3 separate regions of the Homo sapiens genome follow, and all the other regions are linked to region 2. The links come from fine-mapping of genetic effects on plasma protein levels. A gene starts in region 2. Each other region holds a variant in brackets. All regions are shown on one strand. Distances are from middle to middle.

Region 1 (8,196 bases), 58 kb before region 2:
AACTCACTGTCTGTGAGATCTTTCTATGCATTTTCTAGGCTTTCAGGCATTATGTTATCAGACTGATAGAAGAACAGAGATACGAATTTCCAAACTGGAAGAAAGGCAGACTTCTATCTGCAGCCTGTAAGACAATGTACTTTTTAAGATTTGATTTCTTCTAGAAAGATGAACTACTAGAAGTTGACATAAGCAGAAGGAATAGTCAGGATGCCAGGATCAGAATGTTCTCCAGAGAATTCTGTGAATTCCCTCTTTCCTCTCAATGACCATGCCTGGCATTCGCAAACCAAAGGGCTCATGGTCTGGTCCCTCAGGGTTAACACGCCAACACTTTTGATTACGTCTTTCAGTGCCTCGATTGCCTCATTGTAAAATAACAGCAGAACTTACTCCAAAATATTGTGTGAGGAGTAGACTGTAAATATATGTCAGTGCTGAGAATAGTCTTGCACAGAGTTGAACACTCTATCAGTGCTTGGTTTTGTTCTCTGGACTACACCACCAATCATCTATACACATCAACCTTTATTTGTGCATCCCAGGCAAAAATGATCCCTTTTTTTGCTCCTCTTGGAGGGATATTCAGAAGTTAAAGTTTATGTGTAAAATGTCAGCAACTCTCTGGAGAGAATATCTGCTTTAAAGTTAATGGATTCTCCTCAAATAAATCTATAGACATTCTCTGCCCTAAGTCTGTAGACTCCCTGAAGCATGGACTATCTTATTCCCTAGAGACCATTAATAGCAAAGAACCCTGTGATCTACAGAAAGAACAGATTCTTTAATTATTATTATATTACTTGTTACCACTTACGTCCCTGCAAGAACGCCGTACCACATAGTAGGTTCTCAATAAATATTTGCTTAATTCAGTATAATTTTATTTAATTCTTCATTTCTCATAAAGAGGAGCTGAGATTCATTAGATTATCATCTTTTCTTCCTAAGCATAAAGGCATCACTTAAATATATAAAGTAAAAAAAAAACCTAATTCTCTGAGTCACTGGAAATCATTTAAATGAAACTAAATATCCTCTTACCTAAATGTCCTTTTACAATGGGTAAGGTTGTGTAAGGATGAGAAGAGCATGTTTTTGTTTATTTACCCTTGACCTAGAGTTTAAATGTGGGAGTTTAAGTAAAAGAGATTTTTCTCTAATTTTCTGCAGAACCTGAAAAAGGAGAATAGCAGAGAAAACACAGCATATATTGTCTCCTGTGTTTGATTTTTACAGCTGACAGCTGGCAGCTGAATGTAATAACCTGGAATAAAGGAGAAACAATAGTGGAATTTACTAGCAAAGACTGTTTGCCTTAAAGATTCTTCAAAGTATTGTCATGGAACTATGTTTAGAGGAAGGATACGAAGCACTTATAATCATTCTTTAAGAAGTACAATAAAGCAAAAGGCAAACATCCTTCAGCTGATGTCATCCCGTAGTGTATGATGCAGTATTTTCAAATTAGAATTTATCTACAGCGCAGCTGACTTCAGCTCCTACAAATCTCCTCAGCAGCGATGCTACTTTCCACACAGATGCTATAGTTGGGTGATTCTTCTCTGCAGGTTGCTTTTGGTCCAGGATACCAAGGCTTTTCAGATACAACACTGAGTATGCCAGTCTTATATCCTAGTCCCACCAACAATGAATTGGGCATCTTAGATCTCTTTCATTGAGTTCTAAGTTAGTCTTAAACAAACGAAAAGAAAACTAAAAATAAAACTATCCTGCAAATGTGAAGAGTTTTTTTACATGTTTGGTTAAAGTACATTAAATGTATAAAAAGTATACATAATAATATTGGTAGAATAATAGTAGATACTATTCGAGCCTAAAAATCTATTCATATAATGAAGCGTGTACAAAAGTCACGCAGACTTTAAATCAGAGGATCCTGATTTGTTTGTAATCTTCAAATACTGTAAGAATCTCTCTACAGAGGAGTTGACTCCCAAATATTAAAGCTGGCCCAGAGACAACCTGCTAACCTACTAGACTTTTCTCCTTGTTCATAATGTGTTTGTATCCTCAAAATAAAAGCTCCCCGTTACTCTTCTCACACTTCCTGCTGTTACAGGGCTCATGACCTGTTTCCTGTTGATAAATCCTGAAAGCTGGTTCAATATCCTCAGGAAAAGAAAGAGCTTATTGTGTACCGGAGATCTCAGCTCTACCAGGAAAGGCTGGGCTCCTCGTTTGACTGTTCCTGCAATTTCTTCAGAATTACATAAACAAGAACCTAGAAAGAAAAAAGTCTCCTCATCCAGAAAAACCAGTTCATACAGTGCCCCTCTCTGATTCTCAACTGGATATTGTTCTTAGCAAATCAGATTTTAAAATTCACTTTATCATTATGTCCTATTCTTAATATCATTTTTCTAAAGTGTGTAGTGAGAATGCTATGCTATACACTTTTTTCTGTTGTTTTGAAATGTTTGTTCACATTGTGATCAATATTGTGAGTTTTGCTATAAAGACAAAGGGATTAAGGGGAAACATGAAGAATAAACTCAGGGAAGGAGCTGAAGTATGTCAAATGTATGCTATTTTTTCCTCCTCACAATCTAAAGTGACACTATCCCTTAGTCCCAGACTTGGAATGACATACCATTCAAAACTCACTCTAGGCAGCTAGACCCTTCACATCAATGGCACTTAAAGAGTGGCTTGTCATCCATCCCTGAGCTAGACTGCAGCCACATAGGATGCTAGGAGTCAAAACTTAAATGAGTGCATGTCTCTGTTTTACAGCTTAGTCCACAAAATCATTTGACTTCCTCCTATCAGTCATATTTTCTTTCTGTAGCAACAAGGCTTACATAACAATTGCTTAACTGCAGGCTTACTTCTCATTTCTTGTTATGTACCTATTATATGAACTACTTTCATCGAAAATCTGCACTCATCATCAAAAATATTTGGTAATAAAATCCTTAGCTCCCCAAAGTAGGTGCCCTTCTACAATTTGTTCATAAATACAGATTTCCAAAGAAGTTTGTTGTTATTAATAAATCAAGTTTAGCCTAACGCTGCCTTTTTACGTATTTTAAGTTTAGCTTAAAGGATTCTCTGTACATAATGTCAACTATAACAAGTTGAGGGGTAAACAGACCCTAGTCTATACTTGTGCCAATCACTGTGCTTTGGCCAATCAAATGTAGCCAACTGTTTGAATTGTGTTCAAATAAGGCAAACTCCGAGCTGTAAGCAATCCAGCTTTTTCTGTACCTCACTTCCGTTTTCTTTACTACGTTTTCCTTTTTCTGTCCATAAATCTTCTTCCACCACATGGCTGCACTGGAGCCTCTGAGTCTACTCTGGCTCTGGAGGCTGCCTGATTTGTGAATGAGTCATTGCTCAATTAAACTCTTTTAAATTTAATTGAGCTGAAGTTTTTTTCTTTTTAACATTGCTTATGCATGTGTATGTGCGCCCCTATATTTAAAAATAAATCACTAGATCCTTTTAAAAATATTTTCTTGACTTCCCTTACATTTTTTATTGCAGTTCACATTATGAAACTGATTTCACATTTACTTTATTTCAGCTAACAGTAACATTATGAGGAAATTATAATTATTTCTACTTCATATGCAGTGAAATAGGTTTCATGAAGTAAAGTGACTTGCCTAATAAGTAAATCAGAATAAGAGGTCTAAAATCTTCATTTTCTAACCACAAATACAGTTTTCTTTGCATGACACAATATATCAACAGAACTTGCTCGACCCTGAAGAAAATTTTAAGGAAATCAACAGAAAATTGAAAGGAAAGTTCTCAAGGAAGAATCCGCAATAGTCTTTGCTAAGTGACAATCTAACAAAATGAAGTTTATGAAAATGAGCACCAATGTGTTCTTTCTATCATATGATTGCTACTATACGTCATTTTACCATGAGATAGATGTTTATGAAAAACAAAACTGAAGCACCTCAGTTTCCACTGTTGAAAAACAAAGATTTATAATGTTATCTTTTCTAGCATAAAACCCTCAAAATTGATTTATCAGTAAACCAATAAACTTGGTGGCTGTGATGGTGTCATTCCCAATGATCCCTGTTATATTTGTGCATGGAGTCGTCTCAAGAAAGAAGTGCCTCACAAAGGAGCAGCTACAAAGATGTCACTGTCTCTGTTCATTTCCCATGACCTGAC[T/C]GGAAATCATGTGCACTAATGCAACTCAGCTTCCTCATCAACCATGTGTTGATGCCATAAGCTCACCTCAAAAGATTTCATTTTAGGAAAACGTTAAAACTGTTTTCTTGAAGCCAACACGTATTTCAAAGACATCTTATTTTCTCCAGATAATCATGTAATCAGTACTCTTGTAAATTCCCCAAAAACTTTCAGTAAGGCACAATCAAAATAATGACCGCTATCATATTTTGAAAAGCATTTCCATGCTGAATTTTCCCACCAACCATAAGTCCATTGTAAAATCACACACACTTCACAGTATTTACATTTATTATTATTAAATCTTCAGTACCTGAAAGGTATAAATATGGGTCAATGGAAGAAAATAGGAACTGAAACTATTACAGGTGCAGATGAAGAGGCTCACTTTTTTCTGGTCTTTAATCTCTCTGAAGGGAATATCGGGGACGGTAGTTCTGATATGAAACGGAGATGGGGATATATTTCTTTCCTGGGAGAAATTCCTATGGAGGGGAGACAATTATCAGAGTCTTAATGGACACAGGAAGGAATGCTTATAAGGCATTGAGATTTGAGATTCTCATATCAAGTGACATCCCTGTTGGGAAACGGCATGGACAAGGCAGATGGGGTCTTTACTGATGGATTGGGAAGGGACTAGTATGAACTGAAACAAACAAAAAGAATTCCTTGTGTATTTGCTGGTACAATCTGGGAAGTGACTGCCAATTTCTGATGGACTACTTGACTGTCAGAGAAAAGGATGTTACCTCAATGTATTTCCTCTACTTCAAAAAGTTTCTTATTCCACCAAGTGTAAGGAAGACATGAAAACAGGGAGGTGATATTAGACATTGAGAAGAAAGAGAGCTAAAAGTTATCTCTAAGCCAAGAAGGCAGATGACATTATGGGTTTCTGAGGTTGGTTGGTGGCATGTAAATAAGACTTCTTGTGACTGTTAAATACGTGCATAAACCCAAGCTCAGAAATGCTGGTGATCCTGAACAGGAAACACGAGAACCCATTTTGTACTAGTCAGAGAGATAGTCTTTCCTGATTATGTTCCATTTCCCAATGTCTCAACTAGCCCTTGCTTTGGCACCGCCTGGCTCACTCTGCTATTTGTAGTTGCAGAGGGCGAATCAGTCACCTTCGCCTAATGTTTCAGGGGGGACATGGAGGCTCTCTGGCTTCACCATTCCTGCCCTTCTCTCACAGACACAACGCTTCAATTCTTTGCAGTCCTTTGAGAAGATCATCCCATTAAGGATGGCCACACAGTCTCTGCTTCTTGGGCTGGTGACATCTATTATAATATGGAACCTTAAGAAAGGAAGAAAAAGTAAATTCAATCACGGTTTATTTCTAAAATAAAATATTAAATACCCATTCTTTCTAGAGTTATAAAATTATAGTCTAGATACCAGAATAAGTTTACCGGGAAACTGGGGTCATGTGCCTCTTTCTCTTCAGCCCCTAAGTTTCCATACTCATTCTTAGAAACAGCAGGTCACCCCAAACAGCAAAAACCATTTCTAACTAAAGCGAAGCTACGTGTTCTCCTCCAAATTTATATAGTGTTTCTGCCACTTAAAAAGTTCTCTACCTTCTCTGTAACTCAGTTTACTTAACTGTAAAATACAAATGATTACATCAAATATATCCTGTCTCCTGGGAGAATAATGATATATTGTATATAGGGAAGAATGGTGTCTGTTCAAATATGGCTTTAAATGTGATATATTTTGATAGAGAAATTACAATTTCCTCTTTCAAAGGATACTGATGTGGTTTGGATGTGTGTTCTTTCCAAATCTTAGTTGAAATGTTATCCCCAGTGTTGGAGATGGGGCCTGGTGGGAGGTGTTCGGGTCATCGGGGTGGATCCCTCATGAATGGCTTGGTGCCCTCTTCTTGGTGATGAGTGAGTTCTCACTCAGTTAGTTGATGCAAGATCTGGTGGCTTAAAAGGGCCTGGAACCTCCCCCCAGCCCCTTCTCTTTTGTGTTCTCTCTTGCCATTGGACATGCCAGCTCTTGCTTCGCCTTCTGCCATGAGTAAAGCTCCCTGAAGCCTCCTCAGAAGCCAAGCAGATGCTTGTACAGCCTGCAGGATTGTGAGCCAATTAAACCTCCTTTCTTTATAAGCTATCCAACCTCAGGCATTCATTTATGCTGATGCAAAAATGGACTAACACAGATACCATATGTACTCCTGTCTAAATGCTCACAGCATATGTACGACTAGTGTTTTATATTACCCCTTACATTTTCAGCAAATCTTTTCTCAGAGATTGTGTTTTTTAAAAGATGTGCTCCCTATTTTGCTGCACAGAAAGCCAAGAACTCTTATGCTATCTCTGGGTACTGACAAGTTGTGTGACTTTAGGCAACCACCATTACAGCCTGGACTCCTGGGCTTCAATTTACTCACTCAGGGAAAGATCTCTCTCTCTCTCTCTCTCTCTCTCTGTCTCTCCCTTCTCTCATCTGCAGTATGTCCCAGACACAAACTTCTGAAAGCAGCAAGAGAACTACCCTGATATTTTACTAATGCTATGTATCTGTCTCCCTCACTGGCTTATAAGCAGTTCAAAAGCAGGCACTGGCCGGGTGCGGTGGCTCATGCTTGTAATCTCAGCACTTTGGGAGGCCAAGATGGGCAAATCACTTGAGTCCAGGAGTTCTAAACAAGACTGGGCAACACATCATAATCCTGTCTTTCCAAAAAAGACAAAAAATTAGCTGCATGTAGTGGTGCACGCCTGTAGTCCGAGCTACTCAGAAGGCTGAGGTGAGAGGAGAGCTTGAGCCTGGGAGGCAGAGGTTTCAGTGAGCAGAGCTTGCACCACTGCACTCCAGCCCATGCAACAGAACAAGACCCTATCTCAAAAAACAATCAAACGAACAAACACACACACACACACAAACAAAATGAGGATGCACTATTGTTCAAATATCTTCAGGCATCCTCCTGCAAACACAGTATCCAGTACAAAGCAGAAGTTTGATTAATACTTGATGGACCAAATTCTTGAGCTCTATCACTCAAGCAAAATATCTTTGTTAAATGCCTTTCCCATAAAATATCCTGAAGGCTTACAGTTCAGAAGTGAAAGGGGTTCCATCCATCCACAGCCAGGCCTTGCCACTGTCAGGGCGCAAAAGCCCTGTCCAATAAGAGTAGAAAAACTCAGAGTAGCTCTGAGACGCGGCAAATTCCTGTGAAAAGCACATAAGAAAAGCTTTAGCTTTGGTGGCATGATTACTCACATGTACAGACATGCATGGGCCAGCCAGCACTTTTCTCAAAGCACACACAAGTCCTGCTTCACATTGATGCTCATATGCTTAAGAGAAAAAGCATCTATGCTGAGGCCAGTCAGAAATTTGTCCAGGTTTAATAACTTATTTTGTCTTAGTAAATATGGAACACATGTCGATATTCTGAAAGCGGAAATCACATCAACCAAGATTTGTTCCTGACCCATGGCTTTTAAGGCACAGAATTAAACATTAATGTTGACATAAAAATATGAGGGAAAGACTAACAAAGAGATGCAGAATGATTCTGGGACATGGAAGAATATGGAGGGAAAAGTGCAGGAATGAGGTAGTAACCGTTATAAATACCTGGGAAAGGAAGAAAAAAAGTAAAAGAAAAATTTGCAAGGATGATTTATGTCTTAGACTAGGAAGAGAAGAAAGAAATTTTTAAATTTCTATCTATAAATATTTATGTGCACACATGTGTATAGTCCTATACATGGTAATCCTTTTCCCAATATCCATATTTAACATATGTTTACATTTTAAAAGTTGTTTACTTACTTCTATCTAGTCTCACTCTGCACTCCTAATAGATATTTTTGGAGGATTGGTGGCGACAGGGTCTCACTCTGTTGCCCAGGCTGGAGTGCAGTGGCACGATCATAGCTCACTGCAGCCTCAACCTCCCCAGGCTCAGTGCACTCCTAATATTTTAACATAGAAATTATCTAAATATTTATTATAATTATCCATTTAAATAAT
Region 2 (6,847 bases):
GCCATTTTTCTTGATAATTATGATGACAAGGAGAAGAATTTTCTACTTTACTTCCACCATATTTAAAAATTGAAATACAAACTCACAAAAATGGGTAGTGTCCTGATTATTGTAGTCATGCATACATGGAGTATGTTTGAAAGGATTTGTTTTAAGGCGAAACACAGTTTTTTAAATTAGTTAAAAATAAAAGCATATACTATGCACTTTATGTGCTTAAGGCATGCTATGATTATAATTATAGAGATATTAAAAATGAATTTTGGCCAAGTATGGTGGCTTACACCTGTAATCCCAACACTGGGAGATCGAGGTAGGCAGATCGCTTGTGCCCAGGATTTTGAGACCAGCCCAGATGATATGGAGAAACCTCGTCTCTATGAAAAATACAAAAAAACATTAGACGAGTGTGGTGGTGCACCCTGTAGTCCTACCTACTCAGGAAGCTGAGGTGGGAGGATCACTTGAGCCTGGGATGTCGCGGCTTCACTGCACTCTAGCTTGGGCAACAGAGTGAGACTCTGCCTCAAAAAAAAAAAAAAAAAAAGACTTCATTTTAGGAAAAATTGTCATTACCTGGAATCTCCCTCTATCTTCCTTCAGGATACACACCACAGATAATCATAACAGAAGTCTACACTTACCAATTCATTTGAGCTGTCTATCTTTAGGAGATTAGAGCCCAGTTGCCAGCATTGTCTTTTACTTCCATCCCAGGAATTTAGTGACATGCTGAATAGATAACAGCTCTTCTCATATATAATCCAATTAGGAGGACAAGGGCTGGAAAGAACCCCTGGAAATAAAAGATTAGTACCATGAGGTTCATAGCATACCAATTCACTCTTTTAGTGTGAACACCATTCATCTTAAGGACACTTATGAAATAACCAATTAGTTGCCATTTTTATATTTCATTGTCAATTCGAACTACAGGGATATGATTTTACAGATGAGAATACATTAAAATCTTCCTATTCATTTAAAATTTAAAAACAAACTAGCTATAAATAGTATTTTAGGCAGCCAACCATCCTTTTTTTCTTCACTTGTCTTCTATTCCTTCTAATTCAGCTCAAAACTACCTTTCTCCTTAATAACTCCTTAAAATAAGTCCACTCACAATCAGTCATTGAGGTACACAGCAATTTCATATTGCTACTTATTTTATGATGTAAGATCTACTTCATAATGTGACTTTCCAAGTGAGAAAAGTATAGGCCAATTATTCATATTATACACTATCTCTGTTATATATTATTAGCTACTTAATAAAAATAGTGAGAAGGTATGGGTCCAGAGATGAAAAATTGAACTGAAAACATTAAGTCATAGTCAATTATGATGCAATTAGAAGTAAAAGTCAAGTGTGTATAGAATTGTAATTAAGTAAATGAAATTGTATGATTAAACAAATTTGATGAGTTTTCAGGGACATGTGTATTAGGTCTACCTCTTTTGTATATTTTTAATATAGCTTCCTTATTCTTGGCAACATTTTCCCTTCTTTCCTTTCTCCCTGTCATTCTTCCTTTCTAATGTCATATTTCCTATTCTAACTGTATCGCATTTAAAATGTCAATTCTGTAAGGGGAGAGAACACTTTTCTTTTATTTGTATCAAATTATATGATCTCCTGTAGATCTAAGCACATAGCCAGTGATAAATCAGTTACTGATTTTAAAAATTAATAAAGTCCAATTTAGAACTGTCCAGCCAACTGCATAGGGTACTTATAATTTCACCTTATTGTATATATGACAGGGATACATTACACTAAGGTAATACTAATATGTGTATTTGCCTTAAATTTACAATCATTGAATCTAAGTGTTTTTCTTTACACCCCTGCCCCAGGCTTCAGCACCAAGAATTAACCCTCTTGAGTCAAGATTCCGTCCTTTAACTATGCCCTTGCCTGTGGTTTTGACAGCTTTGGTAGGAGTCACACTGTCTTCTAAAGATGATTGTGTGGGTTGACTGTGGTTCTCTTTATTTCTTGATAGAAAGTAGCCATTCTCCAATGTGTTGCTTCCTGAATTGGATCTCCAAATAGCTTCACATACCAACAATAATAATAGTGACAGAAAAAATGTCATTCTGCTGTGTTTGAAAATTAAAATCCCAAAACCCAAATGTTATTGGAATAAAAGAATACATTATTGATTAATGATAAATAGATGATATATTGCTGTGGAGAGATAAAGACGATTGATAGAATAGATGAAAAGAAATACATAACTTTTATAAAGGAGGTATAGTAAAAAAAAAAAAAGAAAAGAAAAAAGAAGGTGGAGAAGAAGAAATAGAATGAGGGAGGCAGCAAGAGGCAAATGTCATAGAGTCAATTGGACCCATGACAGATTTGAAATAGCAACATCTTTCACCTTTCTTCTGTTATTTAAAAATGAGAGATCCTTGAGAAACTGCCCAGTACCTATAACATAGAACGCACTCAATAAACATTTGACTAATTAAGGAATGTCATGAAGACTCTCTGAAGGTGACTGACAACAGATTGCATGTGATATAAAATGTAAAAAAAATATTAATCCATTACAAAATATCGACTTAAGACCAAGTGCCTCAGGAAATTTCTGGTGTATTCAAAGGTGTTTATATTAAAGATCGGAAATAATTTCCTTAAATAATGTGAATCATAAAAATAGCTTAATGTCCATTTAGTGAATTTATTTCATTAGGAAGACAGCACCATATTGTACTTTCTTCTTCAGCTCCGCTTGTTTTCTTCATTAATTTATCCTTTGAATTCCACAGCTTTGAAACCAGCTATGTAAGGGAGGTAGGAGAGCAATGTAGTTAAGAGTATGAGTTTTTTAGACAGATCACCCAAATTTCTAATCATGGTCCCACCACTAACTAGCTTATAACCCTGGAAAGGTAAAATAACCTCTCAGTCTCTCACACCCTTTATAAGTGAAATGGGCATTAACAGCACCAACCCAATACAGATAAAACCAGATTATATACAAATTAAAGTAGATTATGCATGTCAAGCCCTTAAAAGAGTGCCTGGCACATAATAATTGCTTACTAAATTGTCTGTTGTTAATCTCCTCCACCAAATACTCACCCATGGTACCCAGGACCACAGCTATCACCAGTATTACCAAGCATAGGATTCCCAAAATTACAGCAATGAGGCGCCAAGGAGGAGATGCAGCACACGATCCTGAGGAGCCAGAGGGGGCAGAAATGGAATAAAGAAAGAGAATGACGGATGGTGGGGCAGTTTAATTCTACAGTTCATCAAAAATCTGGCCTTGCACGGTGGCTCACACCTGTAATCCCAGAAGGGAGACTGAGGTAGGAGGATTGCTTGAGGCCAGAAGCTCAAGACCAGCCTGGGCAACACAGGGAGACCCTGTCCCTACCAAAAAAAAAAAAGAAAAACAAAGAAAGAAAAAAAATTTAATTAGCTGGGCATTGTGGTGAGCTCCCGTAGTCCCAGCTACTCTGGAGGCTGTGGCAGGAGGATCACTTGAGCCTAGGAATTCCAGAGCAGCATAGGCAAAAAAGTGATACCCTGTTAAAACACACACACACACACACACACACACACACACACACACACCACCAACAACAACAACAAAAAATACTGGCAAATTTTTAAGTGAATTATTAATCACTGCCTAGGTTACCTGGTCACCTAGGATTTGCTGTGCTTCTCCACCAGTAAGGATACCTTCTTCTTCAATTGCTGGAATTGTAATTTCGGCACATTGGCTTGATAACTGTATGCTCCTAATTTCAGTTCCACATTGACATCTACAGGTCTTGACATTAGTAGGATCCCTGAAATCCCACTGATTCTTAGAGGAAATAGCTTAATGTTGGGGAGATAGCACTGATTACTAAGGGTAATTTTCCCTTTTCATATGTTTGTTGCATGACCCTGGGCAAATTACTCCCTTTGTTGTTTTTTATTCCTCTTTGTGAAACTGGGGTAATAATATCTCAAAGGATTATTGCGGGAATTAAACGAGCTAACACATATAAAAGCACCTTGTTTAGAGACTGCTAGCACATGATAGGTGTGTTGTTGCAGGATACCGTTTGCCTACACATATGCATAAACATGCGCATGTCTCCCTACCTCTTGCCTCATCCACTTTTTCCACGCTTCCTCAATAGGTTGCCCAAGAAAAGAATTACATCAGTGCTGAGAGGAAAATATTTGTGCAGTGTGAATAACCAGAAAGCAGAAGAAAGCAAACTCTGGTGTCAAAACCGACAAATGATCTCTCTCTCTCAAAGATAATAGGGAACTAATTTTGTATGAACATTGCCATAACCAGAATGTATTTCTGCTTTCCACTGTGACTAAGCTGTCAGGACATTTCATAGAATTGTCACATAGGAGAATCGTAGAGTAGGCTAAATCACCCATTCTATGAATACAGAGATCCTCCAATGCCCTTCTTTCTATTTCATTTCATTTACACTTTGTTTAAGACTCATGTCCTGCTGGTGGGATGTTTTTATCTACCATATGTTCATATATTTTCCATCACTGGTATACCAATAATTGTTTTTTGTTTAAAAACAATTTAAATTAATCTCTTACCACAAAAAAAAAATGTTGTTCATATATATACTTCTTTAAGTTTCCTGGCCTCCATTCGATAATCTAGCCTTTCTATCAAACAAGCAACAAGTCACTCATACAGAAATCCTTTATCTTTGTGTATTATCCCACTTATTACCAATTCCTCACTGATGAAATGTCTATATCTATAGAAAAGAGAAATTCTATTTTCTGCCATCAGACATAATTAATTTAAACACTAATAATTGGTCACTGAATAATTTTCATGAAAAAAGGTTTAGGGTGCATTCAATTTATCTTCAGTGACATCTGAAGCCTTTAAAAGTATATCCATAAAAATATACACATCACGAGGCTCTCAAATTTTCTCCCCTTATATCTTTTTGTTTTGTTTTTATTTTTATTTTTTTTCAGAGATGGAGTCTTGCTCTGCCACCCAGGCTGGAGTGCATTGGCATGATCTTGGCTCACTGCAACCTCCACCTCCCAGGTTCAAGTGATTCTCCTGCCTCAGCCTCCCAAGTACCTGGAACTACAGGCGTGCACCACCATGCCCGGCTAATTTTTGTATTTTTAGTAGAGACAGAGTTTCACCACGTTAGCCAAGCTGGCCTCGAACTCCTGACCTCAGTCAATCCACCCGCCTCGGCCTCCCAAAGTGCTGGGATTACAGGTGTGAGCCACCATGCCTAGCCTCCCCTTATATCTTTTCAAACGGGAGAGCTAAAGGCACACATTAGAAAAAACATATATATACCTTTCTCTGAAACAACAGCTATCCTGGTATTGCTTTGAGAGTCGAAGTGTAATTGAGTATATCCATCTTCATCCAAATTTTCTAAATCAGGATGATATTCCATTGTTCTTGAGAGCCCCTGAATAGATATAGCATTTGGGAGCTCTTTTCTTTCTGCTCCTGAGATGACTGTCTGTGGACAAAAGAGAATCTCTGAGTCAAATCATGTGGGCTAGGTACTTACCGGAGTTTAACAAATTAAGCTTAAGTAGTTCAACCAGATATTCAAGAGCAGGAAATGAAACTATGCTGTGGTAATTTTCCATTTGTACCTTTAGATCCTGTTTCTGAGACTGCTGACTCAGGAAAACTAAAAGGCAGCATAGCAGATGAGTCTTTGTTTCAGACCAAATGTAAGAAAAATGCATACATTAATGTCTTATGCTGCCTTCATTACTCTCACAACTAAGTCTGACATTAATTAATTTAACCGATGCAAACTATTTCAGTTTTGGTGCTCCAAGTTTACCATAACTTTGTTCATGTATTTATTCATGTATTTTTTAAATTACATAAACAGGTACTGGATGCCCACCTTTTCAATTGGTAGGAGCTTACAATACAAGGAAAAATGATACCTATGAAGAAACTCATTGCTTAATAAAGGAAATATATAGATAGGTAAATGAGGGATGGCATGAGGAGATGCATTGTTGTAACAACAGACAGAGAAAACAAATCTCTTTGGGAATTATCAGATATTAACACAAAATAACATTTATTGAACAATTACTATGAGCTAAGTACCACATGTTGTACATATTTTCTTGTTCAATCTCACTTTTCCAAGTCTATATAGTAGGCATTATTATTTCTATTTTCAAATGAAAAAATGAGACAGAAAATTTAGCCTCTTTCTCAGGTTTAAGAAGCTAATTTTAAAAATTTAGAGCAAGGAATCAAATCAAAGCTGACTCTTGCTGCAAAACTCGTGGTCTTTTCTGTTACGCTACACTGCCTCTTTCATCATTCCATACACTTATATTGCAAGGAACAGCTTATGGAAGGTGTTGGGACTGAAATATTATGTTAGATGTTTGATTTTTTTTCCCTCTCTTCCAGTTTCCATAGTAATGATCAAATCAAAGAAATATAGAAAACACCTAACATTGCTGGAAACTGAAGAGGTGTTCAACTCATTTATCCGACCTTGAAGCCAGTAGAGTGCAGGAGACATCTGAGTGTTGTCAAGGATCAACAAATCTGGATACTAGTTAATGTGGTGAGGACAGGTTTTATTCAGTAATACTATTGCAACAGGAACCAGTGCAGCATTAACTGAACTCAACTTCCCCAAAAGTAAAGCTGATGACATTTTAAAGTGGAGTTTGCTAAGGAAAAGATACTGAGTGGTGTTAAGGAAAGTTAATGTGACTAGACTCTCTGGATTTGTTAATTGGCCCTTATCCAGAGGACAGAGAAACTTTGCCTATCTATATGACAGAAGGACATGGTGATAGTTGAAGTGAAGCACCCAGCTA
Region 3 (8,175 bases), 9.5 kb before region 2:
AAAAGGCACTTAGAAGGTGCCTGTAATTATGATTCTCATAAAATAGCAATTAGAACTATTTCCCAAGCTTCAGTTATTCAAGTATATTCCTAATAATTTTTGATAAAAAACCTACATTAACATTTATACTACTTTTCCTTAAAAGCTTATTTTTTTTTCAAAAAATATTTTTGACTATCGACTGTATGGCAAGTACTATTCTCAGACTGTTGGATACATCCATGTACAGCAAAGCTGTCTGTCCTTTTAGAGACTATATTCTACGGAGAAAGGCAGACGATATATAAGAAACAGATAGATAAGAAAGAGGAAGACAATATACAAGAAAGAGAATAAGTATCATGCTGGTGCAAAAGTAATTGCGGTTTTTGCCATTACTTTTATCCTATATACTTTCAATGGCAAAAACCGCAATTTTGCACCAACCTAATAAGTAAATAGTAGAGTATATTAGACTATAATAAATGCTATGGTAAATAAACAGAGGTAAGGGAGATGAAGAATGTAGGGAAAAAGGGTTGGTAACTTTAAATAGTTATGTGAGTAAGCATCATTAAGAAGGTCATGTTTGTGCAGAGATGGAAACGAGGTGAGAGGCCAGGCCCTGCAGCTTTGTCGGGTAAGAATCATTCAGGCCGGGCGCGGTGGCTCACGCCTGTAATCCCAGCACTTTGGGAGGCCGAGGCGGGCGGATCATGAGGTCAGGAGATCCAGAACATCCTGGCTAACACAGTGAAACTCCGTCTCTACTAAAAAATACAAAAAAAAATTAGCCAAGCGTGATGGCGGGCGCCTGTAATCCCAGCTACTCGGGAGGCTGAGGTAGGAGAATGGCGGGAACCCGGGAGGCGGAGCTTGCGGTGAGCAGAGATCGCGCCACTGCACTCCAGCCTAGGCCACAGAGCGAGACTCCGTCTCAAAAAAATAAAAGGATCATTCAGGTAAAGCAGATAAGAATCACCAATACCTTGAGGTGGAAGCACGCCTGACATGGTTGAGAAACAACAGAGAAGCCGGCGTCCTGAGTGCGGTGAGTAAAGATGAAGGAAGTAGGAGATTAGCTCAAAGTTAAGAGGGCCAGAATATGTAGCGTCTTATAGATAATTACAAAGGTATTTCTTTTTTATGTTGCTTTGTTTTTACTCTGAGATACATGAGAAGTTGATGAGAATTTTAAGTGGAGAACCGACATGATTTTATTTAAATTTAATGGTCTCACTCTGATTTGTTTGAAAATAGACTGTAGAGGGTGAGGGTGAAGGCTCAGAGACGACTTCAAAAATTATTGCTATAAGCCAAACAAGTGAACATGGTGGCCCCTGAGCATGTCCTCTGGTGTGACCATTACTCATCTCGAATTTAACTTTCAGACTGAGGTTCGGCTAGCAGCTATTTCACCTTTTCTGTCTCTTGGAAAAGTGTGGATGTTTTCTGTCTCTTGGAAAAGTGTGGATGTTTTCTGTCTCTTGGAAAAGGGTGGATGTTTTCTGTTTATTAACGTATATTTCCATATAAGCTGTGATATAAACGTGTCTCAACAGGTCAGGTACTGTATGTCTTGCACAACGTAGAGCAATCTTACTTTACACCGTCACTTTCGTGATACCCACGTCATGGGTTAGGTTGCCTGGCCTGTCTGTTCACTAGATTAGTACAGCTGGATCTTCAGCATCCAGTTATTTACCTTGATTACCATAATTTCTTGGAGTCATCCACTATATCCTGGGGACCCAGGAGGAATGAATCAAAACAAAACCAAAATTAAAATACTAGATATCTCTTCCAAACTCCATCCTATGCTTTAACTACTTAAAACAGTTAACCATACTCCTCATGTTCTCAGCCTGATCTATCTCTTCCCTTTCTTTTTTTATGTTTATTATACATTACATCATTTATTTATTTATGTATGTATTTTTAATTGTACTTTAAGTTCTGGGATACACGTGCAGAACGTGCAGATTTGTTACATAGGTATATATGTGCCATGGTGGTTTGCTGCACCTATCTATCTCTTCCCTTTCTACATGTTTTTAAGTAATGAAAACAAATTTGCATATTAAACAACAATAGTAAACCTCACAAAGATCTTTATCTTCTCTTAGGTTTTTAAAATTTTTAAGATCGCGAATTAATGCTTTAATATCAAAATATCTACTATAAATATCCACTCCACCCATACCAAATTCATCATCATTTTTGGGGAGAGGGCAAATTGTAATAGTGATTGTGACACACAGGCACATAATTTAGAGGCCATGGGTTTTTTGATAAGAGTTTTTTTTTATTGAAATGAAATCCACATAACATAAAATCATCCATTTTAAACTGCATAATTTAGTAAAATTGGTACAATTTCTTTTCACATATTAATCAACATTAGAGGACTGTAAATGCCTCCCTAGTAATACAGAAATATCCATTGGAAATAAAAATAGCACCAGTGGGAAAGTATGAAAAAAATAAGACAAATCAGCACATGAGGAAATATAGTTTCATTCCAATAATACCATTTTACAGTAATTACTGAAAAAAATGGTAAAAATTGTAAAACAGTACATCACAAAACTAATAAAACATATTCCAAAATGTTAATACTTGTTCCAATGAGGTTGGTTACTTTTTTATATTCATCATCAGATTTTATGTATTTTTATGTATTTTTGTATTTAAAAAGCAGAAAACTTTCCTATGAGAGCAGTTTCCCTACAATTACATATTATACAAGATTCTAGGCTGGGTGCAGTGGCTCACGCCTGTAATCCCAGCACTTGGGAGGCCGAGGCAGGCAGATCACTTGAGGTCAGGAGTTCGGGACTACCCTGACCGACATGGAGAAACCCTGTCTCTACTAAAAAAATACAAAATTAGCCGGGTGTGGTGGTGCCTGACTGTAATCCCAGCTACTTGGGAGGCTGAGGCAGGAGAATTGCTTGAACCCAGGGGGCGGAGGTTGCGGTGAGCCGAGATCGTGCCGTTGCACTCCAGCCTGGGCAACAAGAGCGAAACTCTGTCTCAAAAAAAAAAAAAAAAAAAAAGATTCTATTAGAGATATGGCAGATGTACTCTCTGAGCTATTTAATTGATAAAGAAAAAGTAGGAGTTCCTGCTTTTTACTAAGATGATAATCATAATTATGATCATACTGATGAAAATAATAAAATTGCTCTGACTGTGGTGAAGATTTTTTCCCATTTCTTCATTTAGCTATTCAGAAATATATTTCACCCTCAGTTCATAACTGATATACTGCTAGAAGTTGAGGGTCAAATCGTGGCAACACACCGTGCACTTCAATGGCATTGTTGAGCATGAAACAACTCTGATAGAGCCAGAAATTAAGATTCGCTTATGGCTTACCCAAGGTAAATGCCAAGTCAATGGCAGAATGAAAATTCAAGCTTGGGGCCAGGTGTGGTGGCTCACATCTGTAATCCCAGCACTTTGGGAGGCCAAGGCGGGCAGATCACTTAAGCCCAGGAGTTAGAGACCAGCTTGGTCAACATGGCAAAACCCAGTCTCTACAAAAAACACCAAAAATTAGCCTGGCATGGTGGCATGCACCTGTAGTCCCAGCTACTTGAGGGGCTGAGGCGAGAGATAGCTGCAGTGAGTCGAGATTGTGCCACTGCACTCCAGCCTGGGTAACAAAGTGAGACCCTATCTCAAAAAAATAAATAAATAAAAAATAAAAACTCAAGCTTGGCTGCCCTGATTCCATGTCTAGGGATCTACTAACTAGAAAAATAATACTAGCCTACCTGTAGGTCGACAAATACAGAAATCACAGCCTCTCCCTTCAATTTCTTGGTTAAGATTACAGTTGGCCAAGCTCTCTAAACATTTTCTGCATTTATCTTGACCTCAGCTGTTACTCTTTTCTGTTCTGTTTTCTGTCCTCCTTACTACCTCACATATTTCTCTCTCCTTCTCCACCCTTCCTCTTACATTGAAAACTTCTTCTCACAAATACT[A/C]TATGAGGGCACACTACACAGTTGGTCATAAATGACTGACACGTGAATCCATACACAATTTGGAGATGGGTTTTCTTGGGTAGCTGTGGTTCTGATCTGAAATCTGTTAAAATAGAATACAGTGAGGTAATTAGAACAAATGTTAAGGAATACTGTCTACATGGCGCACAAATAAATTAGTAAGGATATTGGTGAAAAGAGTTCTGAAGTGTTTCTATTATTGGAAAAGGAGGCTTAAATCTAAATTGTTGTGAATCTCAAGTGGTTAAATGAATAGTCTCCATTATTAAGGCAGAAAAACGACTTAATTTTTTTTCAAGAACTGCTACTAGCTGCATAAACTAAAAAAAAAGTTCCTGACAAAGAAGAAAAATCATTTAATATTCTATAAAAAGTTCTTTATATATCTTTCAGCCTATTACTTAAATGTTTCTTTATCAAATCAAGTAACAGTTTAATTAAATTATTACTGGATATACTTAATGAGTAGACCAAGCAGAAGCATTAATGCTAAAACAGATCTAGAACTAAAAAGAGAATCAGAGATGCCCAGGCCATTTAAAGGCAGGGCAAACAACTCTGTATATTTTAATGTATCCTGGAAGCAGAATTATATTACAATACAATGCTTGACAGTTATGGAAATCAACACTGCTAAATGCAGGCATGGTCCTGTTCAGTTTGGTCTTCAATCTCCTTAAGTAGCAGTGTTAATGAGTCAAGCTCAAAGAGCATCACTGACCGTCAGTGCAAAAGCTATGACTTGGCACTCTTTGTCCTGGTTATGTATCTCTCCCTCTTGACCCTGAGGTTGGAAGATTGAGAAAACTTTGCTTTAGCGATGACTAAGGCTAAGATTAACTACTTAGATTCAGACCTCAGGGAGAACTCTGACCAGCATTATTCCTTAAAAATTTTCCTTGACCTATAAGTGTTTTGGGGGCATAGACACAGCTAGATTAAATAAATGCCACCCGGAAAACAAAAAAGTAGTAACATATCAAAATGTTAACTTGGGCCCACTTGTGATTATAGAAAGAGTCCTCTAGTCATACATTTAAAATAGCAAGAGAAAACTCAAGACAAACAAGTACTATAAGAAAGTAGAAAATACATTTGGCTGATAATAAATTCACTGTACTTAGCCTAGTAGAAGTAAAACAGTTAAGTGATTATGCTCAGCAGTTTGTACTGTTCACACTATTGGGTGAACAGACCTGGTGGTGAGAACAGAGGCAAATGAAAAAACACTTCAAATTAATTCTACAAAGATTTTAAGATAAAATGTTAACAACACTATAAAAAGCAATCTGACATAAGAGAAAACTAATCAACACAAAAGAAAAATAGTAAAAAAAAAAACAAACAGAAACAGATACATATAGAAAATTGGAATTATCAGACACAAGCTAAAACAACTATGGTTAGTGTATTCTGAAAGTTAGAAGACAATACTAAGAATGTTGGAAGAAAAAGTAGAAGTATACGTGTTGAAATAATAGATTTGAGAAAGAACTAAACTAAAATTATAAAACTGAAAATGTCACCAAACAAAATAAAAGACTTAATAGAGGCTTTTAATGGTAGATTAGCCACAGATGAGAAAAAATAGATGACCGGAAGATATGTGAAAGGTTATTACATAGATTGGAGCAAAAAGCTAAAAAAGAATGAAAACACAGGAAAAAGCAAAAGAAACATATAGGATGGTGTCAATGGGTCTGTAATGAATGTAACTGGGATTCCAGGAGAAGGGAAAAAAGATGGGGAAAAGCAAAATATGAAGCAAGTATGGCTGAGAATTTTTCAGTGCTGAGTAAACACATTAGTTTTAAAACATATATTACCTTCAAACAGATGACCTCTCAAAAACAACAGTAAAAAATAGAAAACAGTGGAATAATATATTTGAGTGGCTGAGAGGAAAAACAACAAACCTCTAATTCTATACTTACTGGAAATATCAGTCTTAAGAAAAAATACCTGTAATGTACAGTTGGAAAGGAAGAAAGAAATAAACAACTAAAATCATAAATATGTGGGCAAATTGAAATGAATACTAACTGCATAAATCTGTGCGCCACCTTGTCTGTCTAATTTTTATATCTTTTTTTTTTTTTTGTAGAGATGGGGTTTCACCATTTTGGCCAGGCTGGTATCGAACTCCAGAGATCAAGTGATCCGCCTGCCTCGGCCTCCCAAAGTGCTGGGATTATAGGCGTGAGTCCCCGCGCCCGGCCCAAGGGCTAGTTTTTTCTTTTTTCTTTTTCTTTTTTTTTTTTTTTAATACTGAGTCTGGCTCAGTCACCCAGGCTGGAGTGCAGTGGTGCGATCTCGGCTCACTGCAACCTCCGTCTCCCGGGTTGAAGCAATTCTGGTGCCTCAACCTCTGAGTAGCTGGGATTACAGGCGTCCACCACCACACCCAGCTGGTGACGCATAGCTGTAGTCCCAGCTACTCAGGAGGCTGAGGTGGGAGAATCGCTTGAACCCAGGAGGCAGAGGTTGCAGTAGGCCAAGATTGCCCCACTGCACTCCAGCCTGGGCGATAAAATAAAAATAAATAAATAAAAATAAATACATTAATATAATAGCATATAAATTGAGGAGAGAGTCAACAGAGTAAAGGAATGCTCTATGATTTTTATATTGGTCAGGAAGAACATAAAAATGTCAGTTAATGTTAGTCTTTGATGAGTGAAGTATACATGTGTAATTCCTAGAACAACTACTAAAAGATTAGTAAAAGAGATGTAAAAGACATGAAAGAGCACATTCCAAATGAACAGAAAAAAAAAACAGAATAAGAAAAAGTGTTAAATCGTCCAAAAAGGAGGAAAGAAAGGGGAAAAAAAGTAACAATTCTAAATCTTTATGTGCCTGATAACACGGCTTCAACACATCGAATAAAATGTTTACAGAACTGTAAGTAGAATCGCAGCGGAAGATTTCAACACAATTCTTTTCATATGGAAAGAGGAAGAAGCACGTAAAAATCACAGAACTACAAGCACGTGGAGCATGTTCTCTGATCACAGTGGAACTAAGCCTGAAACCTAAAACAAAGAGATAACCAGAAACACATATGTTTGTAAATTAAGAAATGCATTTCTAAATAACTCCTGGGTCAAAGAGCAGCTCACAGTGGAAATCAGAAAGTATTTTGAACTGAAAGACAATGAAAATACATTAAAATTATAGCCTTAAGTCTACATACTTGAGATAAAGGAAGGCTTAAATTCATGAGGCAAGCACCCAATACGAGAAGTTTGAGATGGAATAGCAAATTTAAAACAAATAAATTAGGTCAGGAGATCGAGACCATCCTGGCTAACACGGTGAAACCCCGTCTCTACTAAATATACAAAAAATTAGCCGGGCATGGTGGTGAGCGCCTGTAGTCCCAGCTACTCAGGAGGCTGAGGCAGGAGAATGGCGTGAACCCGGGAGGCGGAGCTGGCAGTGAGCCGAGATCGCCATTGCACTCCAGCCTGGGTGACAGAGTGAGACTCTGTCTCAAAAAATAAAACAAAATAAAATAAAAATAAATTAGATGGAAGGAAGTAATACAGATTAGAATAAAAGTTAATGAAAGAAATAATAAAAAGACAGAGTCAACAAAGTCAAAAGTTACTTTCTTTGAAAAACCAAATTGAACGGTACTCCTACTGAGACAGATGAAAAAACACACACAGGTGTGCACACACACACTAATAATAAGAACTTAAAAGAGACATATTTCATATTCTGCAGATATTAAAAAGCAAATGAATGACAACAGCAGTGACAGAAACCACATAATAAGGAATAATGTATCATCAGGCAAATGTGAAATACGTTTAAAATATCTTTCTAAAATGCAAAATGTGAAAATGTGGTTGCTTTTTAACTTAATAATAAGTCTCACACATTAACTATGTACAAGACACTGTGCTAAATTATTTTACTTTTATACCCATCTCACAATTCTAAGAGGAAAGCACTCTTTCTTTTTTTCTTTTTTTTTTTTTTTTTTTTTGAGTTGGAGTCTCACTGGAGTCTCACTCTGTCATCCAGGCTGGAGTGCAATGGTGCAATCTCAGCTCACTGCAACCTCTGTCTCCCAGGTCCAAGCAATTCTCCTGCCTCAGCCTCCTGAGTAGCTGGGATTTCAGGCAATGCCACCACACCCGGCTAAATTTTTAGTGGAGGTGGGGTTTCA

Direction of the effects. Alleles are on the strand shown, and positions count from the first base shown. The strength of an association depends on the size of the effect and on how common the allele is. Not every link is listed here.
As copies of A replace C in region 3, the plasma level of the protein whose gene starts at base 5,547 in region 2 goes up (strong association).

What was found. PIP is the chance, under the fine-mapping model, that this variant and not a neighbour inherited with it causes the effect. The UK Biobank Pharma Proteomics Project read protein levels with antibody pairs (Olink). The fine-mapping took linkage between variants from a reference panel, not from the people measured, so its PIPs are less certain.
Region 1: its variant is fine-mapped to the plasma level of the CLEC7A protein (UK Biobank, PIP above 0.99).
Region 3: its variant is fine-mapped to the plasma level of the CLEC7A protein (UK Biobank, PIP 0.93). The variant lies in the coding sequence of CLEC7A. If it changes the protein, the assay may bind it differently, which can mimic a change of level.

Annotation. Positions count from the first base shown.
Region 1 is chr12:10,066,026-10,074,221 of GRCh38, forward strand. CLEC1A (C-type lectin domain family 1 member A) reads right to left here. Exons shown (of 6, transcript NM_016511.4): 5 at 7,268-7,386; 6 at 3,529-5,488. The coding sequence ends at 5,308. It overlaps CLEC9A (C-type lectin domain containing 9A), which reads left to right. Exons shown (of 9, transcript NM_207345.4): 9 at 1-6. Among named protein-coding and RNA genes, the nearest start is that of CLEC1A, 29 kb to the right of the region's middle. The variant T/C (reference allele first, on the strand shown) is at 4,162.
Region 2 is chr12:10,124,653-10,131,499 of GRCh38, forward strand. CLEC7A (C-type lectin domain containing 7A) reads right to left here and starts at 5,547. Exons shown (of 6, transcript NM_197947.3): 1 at 5,328-5,547; 2 at 3,095-3,193; 3 at 1,919-2,056; 4 at 645-796. The coding sequence starts at 5,430. LOC105369655 (a long non-coding RNA gene) reads left to right here. Exons shown (of 4, transcript XR_007063208.1): 2 at 6,429-6,588.
Region 3 is chr12:10,114,514-10,122,688 of GRCh38, forward strand. It overlaps CLEC7A (C-type lectin domain containing 7A), which reads right to left. Exons shown (of 6, transcript NM_197947.3): 6 at 2,264-4,077. The coding sequence ends at 3,945. LOC105369655 (a long non-coding RNA gene) reads left to right here and starts at 850. Exons shown (of 4, transcript XR_007063208.1): 1 at 850-1,030. The variant A/C (reference allele first, on the strand shown) is at 3,975.